Linked DNA regions of Homo sapiens: regions 1 and 3 are each linked to region 2. Evidence: fine-mapped expression QTL. A gene starts in region 2. Each other region holds a variant in brackets. All regions are shown on one strand. Distances are between the middles of the regions.

Region 1 (2,756 bases), 33 kb before region 2:
ACTGCTGCAATTCCAGGCATCACATCCTCAGACCATCTATGGAGGATTATTTGGAGGGAGTCCAGGCATTTCTCTAGATTTTTCTAAAGTTTCTGAAATTAATATAGCCAGATCAGTAGAAAATTAGGTGTCTGAACTGTATCACATTGGCCCCTCCTAGAATTGTTTAAGCAGCTGTGCTTCAAGGGAAATGCTGCTTGAAGCTGCTAGAATCATCAGCCTTAGACTTGAATCGACTCTGGGATGAATGTTGTTTGAACTTTTCATTCCCTCTCTATGAAGACTCTCAGGGGAAAAATGTTGCTCTGGTTCTTGTGTTGAGAAGAGTCCTGACTTGCCTAAGCAGTCATCCCATGGATACTATGAATAGCCCAGCTGATAAGATAGGATAAGACAGATAATGTATCCTCTTTTTCTTTGGCTGCTAGAAAGCCTAGAATCAAGTTCATGAGCCACCTAGGCCGAATACTTGATTTTACCACATGCTGCAAACTCAAATACCTACAGCCGGGTCATGTTCAAACTTTGCTGTTTTTTGTTTGTTTGTTTGTTTTTTGAGACAGAGTCTCACTCTGTCACCCAGGCTGGAGTGCAGTGCAGTAGCGGGATCTCAGCTCACTGCAACCTCCGCCTCCTGGGTTTAAGCAATTCTTGTGCCTTAGCCTCCTGAGTAGCTGGGATTACAGGTGTGCACCACCATTCCTGGCTATTTTTTTGTATTTTAGTAGAGATGGGTTTTCACCATGTTGGCCAGGCTATTCTCAAACTTTGGCCTCAAGCAATCCACCCACCTCAGCTTCCCAAAGTACTGGGGTTACAGGTGTGAGCCATTACACCCAGCCCAAACTATTTAACAACAGATACAACAGAGGCACTAAGCAGAATGAAAAGCAGTTGTGAACAGGGAGCATCAGCCTGCTTCCACGGCCAGGCTGCTAGTGTAAACAGGCAAAATTGAGACTAAGAAAAAAAAAATATCTTGACTAATTTTTTTTATTACATTTGATAGAAGGGTGAGTTCAGAGAAATAGTCCATGCTGATAAGAGGACCGACACTGCTTCAGTGCCAGACAGCCAAGTGGAGTGGAGGCCAGTGGGAAATTGGAGAGCCCGTGCTCTCCCAAGAAGGCGAGACTGCTTCTCAGACCCAGATCATCGTTGCCAGATGGGATATGGCTCAGAGCTCCCAGAACTTCACTTTTTTTTTTTTTAAAAGAAAAAGTGAGAAATTTTAATTTTTAAGAATTCCTGGATTTTAAGACTGCAACTCAAGACAAACAAACAAAACCCACCAAAACCCAACAGACAAACATAAGACTGCAGGACAAC[T/A]CAAACAGGAAATTCAGCGAATGCTGGCCAGCTTGTGACTTCTGCTTTCTGCTGTGTACTTTATATTTAACCTCATTCCTTCCTCTACTTTACATCTCGTTCTTTTCTGTCTGCTTTCTCTCCTACTTAATTTATAATATCTTACTCTACTTTGTGTTATCTTCATATGTCACCTTAAATCCTACCTAGGACCCAGGAGAGTATAAATAAACTGACCACAGGACATCTCCACTTAGGTAACACATCAGAGTCTCAGATTCCAAACCACAGCAAACTGATTTTGGCATTTTCCAATCCCCTGCTCCCTTCTTCCTCTACCCCAGAGGGGATCCCCTTTTTTTGCTGCTCCAGTCAACAGCAATACCCTCATTCACCCAACTGCATGGCCAGAAACCTGAGTATGATGCTATTCCTGGCCCCTCTCTCTCTCTCATGCAATCAGTTGCCAGGTTGTATCTCCTCACTCTCTGTTCCTTCCTCCTCAACCCTAGCGCCATAGTTCAGGCCCTTGTCACTTCTGGCCTGAATTACTGCATGAGATCCCAACTCACCTCCTGCACCTACTTTGCTCTTCTTCAAAATTAGCCTCCCCTGCCTGCTGGGAGGCACACCTGAGCTCCTCACTTAACCTCCTGGACAGGCCCTGCCATCCCCTGGCTAAATCTAAACTCCCCGCAGTGTGCCCACCCATCCCCTCTGCACCATCTGTGCCGCACACGTGGCACTGCCACTGTGCTGCCCATTCCTCTGCTCAGGTGCCAGTCCTCCAGGGAAGCCTCCGATGCCCCTCAGCTCCTGGGAGCACTCCGCCTCTGGGTGCCCCTGTATCACCTCATGCTTTCCTCTAGACCTGCACCGGCACTGGGTTGAAGGAAAATAATAGTAGCCAACGTTAATTAGCACATACTCTGGGCCAAGCACCCTTCTAGGCAGTTTAAATGTATTCCTTTATGTCATCCTCAAAAATCCCATGAGGAGGCTGGGGAGCGGTGGCTCATGCCTGTAATCGCAGCACTTTGGGAAGCCAAGTGGGAGGTGGAGGTTGCAGTGAGCTGAGATCACACCACTGCACTCCAGCCTGGGTGACAGAGTGAAACTCCATCTCAGAAAAAAACAAAAAACAAAAAAAACTTTATTTCTCTGTCTAACCCAAATTTTGTGTCCTCTCACCAACTTCTCCCCAGCCCCTCCATCCCTCTTCCCTCTCTTCTTCTGTAGGCTGAGAGCAGCCATTCCAGGGCTGATTGTCCAGGCATGCCCAGCACTGGCCAGTGTGAAGAGGAGGAGCATAGACCACTGCTGTGACTTCCTGGGAGTGGGCTTACACTGGCATCTGTGCAGGCTTCAGGAAAAAGAAGCGAAATCACGGCGTGGATCTAAGGGGCCAAGCCTCACCTTGAAGGTTCTTCTGGGTCTTTGGCCTGGAC
Region 2 (2,756 bases):
TCGGGGCATGCTTCCTACAGGGATCTCTGAATCATAAAGATGTTGAATCAGCTATACCAACATGTATTTTTTTAAAGTTTGCACATACTAACCTTTGCTCCTGAATTTTAAGTTTCCAACTTTAAAGGACATAGAGGAGAGGTGTCCATTACAGTTTTCAATACTTCCTGGAACTAAATGCCTTTATTCTGATGCTGATTAAGAAAAAAAAATATACCAGCGGTGCACAGTTTTCAAGCTTACACCATTAACACCCTTTTCCCTAACTGCAGAGGGAAAAGAATCACATTCTTCCATCTAATTCCAACCCACTGTGACTTGCTCTTTTACTTCGTCTTTATGAAGAGGAGGATAAAAGTGAGAAATGCGCATTTCTGAGGGAAATTAAAAGCTCCCTTTGCTACCCAGGCTGCCCCAAACAGAGGGGCCTCGGTTAGGATCACAGTGGCGCGATCGCAGGTCAAACATCCCCCACGGCCACAGCGAGGCCTGCTGGGCCCGGAAGAACACACTCCCAGCAATACAAGTTCGAGCACACCCGGAGCAGCACATCCAAGGAACGCGACGGCCGGGCGCAAGTGCTGCTCTGTTCCCAGGCCAGCCAGCCTCTGGCCTGCAGACCTGGGTGGCAGCCAGTGGCCGCTCCGGGTGGCACACTAGGAAAGTCCCGGAACCCCAGGCCCAGAGGGTCAACTGGTCAAATATAAGGCAGGGTCCAAAAAGTTCCGCTCGTAAATCCTCGTGGCGCCCAACGGGCCTGAGCGCTCATTACCACCAGAACCCATCAGGGACCGGCCCTGACTTTCATACCCCGGGCCTTCCACTGTGGGTGCCAGGAGCAGCGGGACCCGGGTGGGTCTCGAACGCAGGGGCCAGAACCCGAAGAAAGGCTTCCAGCAGTTGGAGAGGGACGCAAAAAACAACCTAGAAGGCTCCCGGGCCGCGGGTTCCCACCCACTCCGCCCTGCCCTGCGCAATCAGCTCGCTAACCCCACCGGCCCCGCGGGGCCAGCGGAGGAAGTCTCCGGAGTTGGCAAAAAGCTCTTAATGACTTAGTGTTTACAAAGCAACCAAGCCCGGGGAGGGGACTAGGTCCTCTGCGTACCCTTTAGACACAGCTACTCCTTCCTTCCCTCCCTTTCCCCGAACCCACGCTGGGGCCTGGAGGTGCCCAGCATGACAGCCTCTACGGGAAGTGGGGTCTTTGGGGAAATCTCTGCCTCTGCCCGGCTCCGCTGACTTCAGCTGCTCCCGCATGTCCCACCTGGGTGCCTCCTTGGCGCAGAGACCTCACATCAAAGCCACCAAGGGGAGGCTAAGGGATTCGTAGAGATGGGTGCCGGCAGCAGAACAGCCTTCGCACACCTGCCCGGATCCCACCGTCTGCCCAGCGTGCCCAGGACCCCAGCTCCTCAGAGATAAGAGCCCTCCTTGGCCAGGTTTCTCACCTTGGATGGTGCCACTGCAGGAGAGAGAGGCTGCTAGCAGGATGGCGGCCCCCAGCAGCCACGCCGCGCTGGGGCTCCGCATCCTCCTGGAAGCCCCGACGCCGGGCGCGCGGGGAATCCGCCGCCGCCGATTCGAAACTCAGAGCTCCACTGGACGCACCGAGAGAAAGTCAGCCTCTCACCTGCCCCGAATCGGAGCCTCTGCTGCGCGCCTCCCCAGGGCGGGTTAGGTTTCAGGGAAACCGAAGGAGCAGCGTACTCACCTGCGGGAGGCCACGCCCCGGGACCGGAACGCGCGCCCTGGTCCCGCCCCCGGCCCCCTTCCCTGCGCAGCTGCGCCCTCCGCTTCCCGGACTCGCGCCAGGTCCCTTAGACTGCGGGAGCCGCCTGCGGGCGGGGTTGAGCGCATGAGGTGTCTGCTTTGGAATGCAAATAGCAGGAGCGCTGGGACCACGGGTTAATCCCTGCCTAGGCTATACCGCGAACTACCTTTAATCTTTACTTACTCCTAGAGAAGCGGGTCGTCGGTCTCCCTTGCCTTTCCTGACTGTGGGAAAGCCACGATTCGTACTCACTGCAATTGTGGTTGGTAACTGATACAGACAGGGCTTCCCGGTGCGGTGGACCCTGCAGGAGGAGGGATGCGTTTTTTATTGTAGAGGCAGGTGGGCAACTGCGGACATCACGAAAGCGGTGGGGAGCACAAGAGGCGGGGCGGGAAAGAAGACATGGAATGGCTACTTTCAGCGCCAAGTGCCAAAGCTTTAGAGAATTATCTTGCTTAATCCCCATAACAACCAGCGCAATAAGTATGATTATTCTTCCCATTTTACAGACGAGGAAAGTGAGCTTAGAAAGACCAGATAAATTGGCCAGAGTTACACGACTTATAAACACAGTGTATAAATGTTTATCACATTTCAACTCCAGTATAAGACTATCACTGTCTTCTATTCATCGCTGCACTATAAATGCGTCCACCAGGGCTCCTCTGCATTGGGATCCCATAGGCTAAATAAATACAAAAGCAGATAGAAGGGGTGGGAGAAGAGAAGTGTGGGGTTGGGGATGAGTGCATGAGGGTTGGCATCATATTGGTAATGTCTTACTTTTTGTTTTTGAGACGGAGTCTCGCTCTGTCTCCCAGGCTGGAGTGCAGTGGCGTGATCTCGGCTCACTGCAAACTTTGTCTCCTGGGTTCAAGCAATTCTCTGGCCGCAGCCTCCCGAGTAGCTGGAGTTACAGGCGTGCACCACATCTGGCTAATTTTTGTATTTTTAGTAGAGGCGGGGTTTCACCATGTTGGTC
Region 3 (2,756 bases), 20 kb before region 2:
AATTTAGAAAGTTTATTTTGCTAAGGTTGAGGACACATGCCCGTGACACAGCCTCTGGAGGTCCTGACGACATGTGCCCAAGGTGGTGTGAAAGGAAAATATCTTGGGCCCCCAAAATCACTGCGCTAAAAGTTAAAAGTCAAACTGGAAACTGCACAGGGCGAACCTGCCTCCCGTTCTATTCAAAGTCAACCTCCACTCACTGAGATAAATGCATATCTGATTGCCTTCTTTGGAAAGGAAGAAACTCAAAAGAATGCAAGAGAGTTTGTCTCTCACCTATCTGTGACCTGGAAGTCCCTTCCCTGCTTTTCTGGTCTTTGCTTCAAGTTATCCCGCCTTTCCAGACCAAACCAATGTACATTTTACATATATTGATGTTTCATGTCTCCCTAAAATGTGTAAAACCAAGCTGTGCCCTGATCACCTTGGGCACATGTCGTCAGAATTTCCTGAGGCAGTGTCACAGGCATGCGTCAACCTTGGCAAAATAAACTTTCTAAATTAACTGAGAACTGTCTCAAATGTTTAGGGTTCACAGTGCTCAGAGCAGTTTGGTTTTACACATTTTAGAGACACATGAGACATCAATCAACGTATGTAAGATGAACATTGGTTCGGTCTGGAAAGGCAGGACAACTTGAAGCGGGGAGGGGGCTTCCAGGTCATAGGTAGATGAGAGACAAACAGTTGCATTCTTTCGAGTTTCTGATTAGCCTCTAGAAAGGAGGCAATCAGATATGCTTTTTTTTTTTTTTTTTTTTTTTTGAGATGGAGTCTTGCTCTGTCACCCAGGCTGGAGTACAGTGGCGCAATCTCAGCTCACTGCAACTTCCGCCTCCTGGGTTCAAGCGATGTTCCTGCCTCAGCCTCCCAAGTAGCTGGGACTACAGGCACCCAGCAGCATGCCCGGCTAATTTTTTTTGTATTTTTAGTAGAGACGGAGTTTCACCTTGTTGGCCAGGCTGGTCTCGAACTCCTGACCAGGATGGTCTCGATCTCTTGACCTCGTGATCCGCCCACCTCGGCCTGCCAAAATGCTGGGATTACAGGTATGAGCCACCGCACCCGGCCCAGATATGCATTTGTCTCAGTGAGCAGAGGGGTAACTTTGAATAGGAGAGGCAGGTTTGCCCTAAGCGGTTCCCAGCTTGACTTTTCCCATTAGCTTAGTGATTTTGGGGCCACAG[G/A]ATTTATTTTCCTTTCACAGGATGAAGGATTGAACCACTCACACTGCTGCTGGGTTCTTGATGGGCCCGCAGGCTTGGGCTGTGGTTTTTACCGGAGGTTGTCTGTAACTCTGGTCAGGCTTAATTTCTCACCAATAAAGACAAAGGCTGGGAAACAGTCCATAGATTGACCCACTGGTAGAGGCAAGAGCAGTTCATACTCAAATCACGGAATATTTCAAACTGTCCCTCCAGAGAGGCATTCCAAGGTTGGTCTGAGTCACTCTAATTGTTGACATTTAAGTGGGACAATCATCTCAGTGAAGTTCCAAGGCTTGAATAAAATGTAGGGCTAGATCCCTGATCACTAAGGGCTTGGTTTTTGTCTTCAGAACTGGGGGTCAGGAAAGGACTGGCCACATCAGAAACTTCTTTTTGAGAAGACATCTAAACACCCAAGCAAAAACTTATCATTTTAATCAAGATCCGGAGGACAGCAAGTACTACCTTTGATTCTGCAATAAATTATAGTCCTCTCAGGGGCCTCCAAAGGGTTAATGTTTCAGGAACAAAGTTGTAATCACTAAACTATGCATACTGATGAGATTATAGCCCTAAAGTTTATGAAACCTTGATAACCAGGAAATTAATTACAGGTTTGAAACTCCTGCTGCAAACCACTGAGGTGACACGTTAGGAAAAAGCCCATAAAACAACTCCAGCCGAGTCAGTTTAGCACTGGCCTTTGTCCTGAGCATCAGGACTGCAAATCTTCGTTCACTTTCAAATTAAGAGGCCTCACTGTTAGTACATAAGCCTGTGGAGTTCAAAGTATTTACATTTTCAGACATTTTAGGACTCAGTTTAGAGAAATTAGACCACAGTATGACATATAACACAAGAGCAAAGACAACCACATCCAAGGTACTACTCCGCTAGGGCCAGAGTTCCTCATGCTTCCAATCAGGAGCCTAATTCAGATAGACCAGGGGGTTTTCTAAGCCACTTTTCAAAGGCAGAACAAAACGATTTGAAAAGCTTTTGCTGGGCCAGGCGCGGTGGCTCTCACCTGTAATCCCAGTACTTTGGGAGGCCAAGGTGGGTGGATCACCTGAGGTTAGGAGATCGAGACCAGCCTGGCCAACCTGGTGAAACCCCGTCTCTACTAAAAATACAAAAAATTAGCCAGGCATGGTGGCGGGCGCCTGTAATCCCAGCTACTCAGGAGGCTGAGGCAGGAGAATCACTTGAACCTGGAAGGCAGAGGTTGCGATGAGCTGAGATCACACCACTGCACTTCCAGCCTGGATGACAGAGCGAGACTCCATCTCAAAAAAAAAATAAGCTTTTGCTTTAGCAAATAATTTTAATTTCTCAAATCATTTCTTTTATACTTTTTTGTTTAGTTTTTTTTTTTTTTTTTGAGACAGAGTCTTGCTCTATCGCACAGGCTGGAGTGCAGTGTCCCGATCTTGGCTCACTGCAAGCTCCACTTCCCAGGTTCATGCCATTCTCCTGCCTCAGCCTCCCAAGTAGCTGGAACTACAGGCGCCCGCCACCACGCCCAGCTAATTTTTTGTATTTTTA

What was found.
Region 1: its variant is fine-mapped to the expression of F2RL1 in whole blood (TOPMed, PIP 0.91).
Region 3: its variant is fine-mapped to the expression of F2RL1 in whole blood (INTERVAL, PIP above 0.99).

Annotation. Positions count from the first base shown.
Region 1 is chr5:76,850,515-76,853,270 of GRCh38, reverse strand. All of the region lies in intron 1 of S100Z (S100 calcium binding protein Z), which reads right to left. Among named protein-coding and RNA genes, the nearest start is that of S100Z, 1.9 kb to the right of the region's middle. The variant T/A (reference allele first, on the strand shown) is at 1,330.
Region 2 is chr5:76,817,957-76,820,712 of GRCh38, reverse strand. F2RL1 (F2R like trypsin receptor 1) reads right to left here and starts at 1,683. Exons shown (of 2, transcript NM_005242.6): 1 at 1,449-1,683. The coding sequence starts at 1,530. RefSeq lists enhancers at 732-1,349, 1,350-1,967 and a silencer at 1,655-1,949.
Region 3 is chr5:76,837,763-76,840,518 of GRCh38, reverse strand. No RefSeq gene overlaps it. Among named protein-coding and RNA genes, the nearest start is that of S100Z, 11 kb to the left of the region's middle. The variant G/A (reference allele first, on the strand shown) is at 1,191.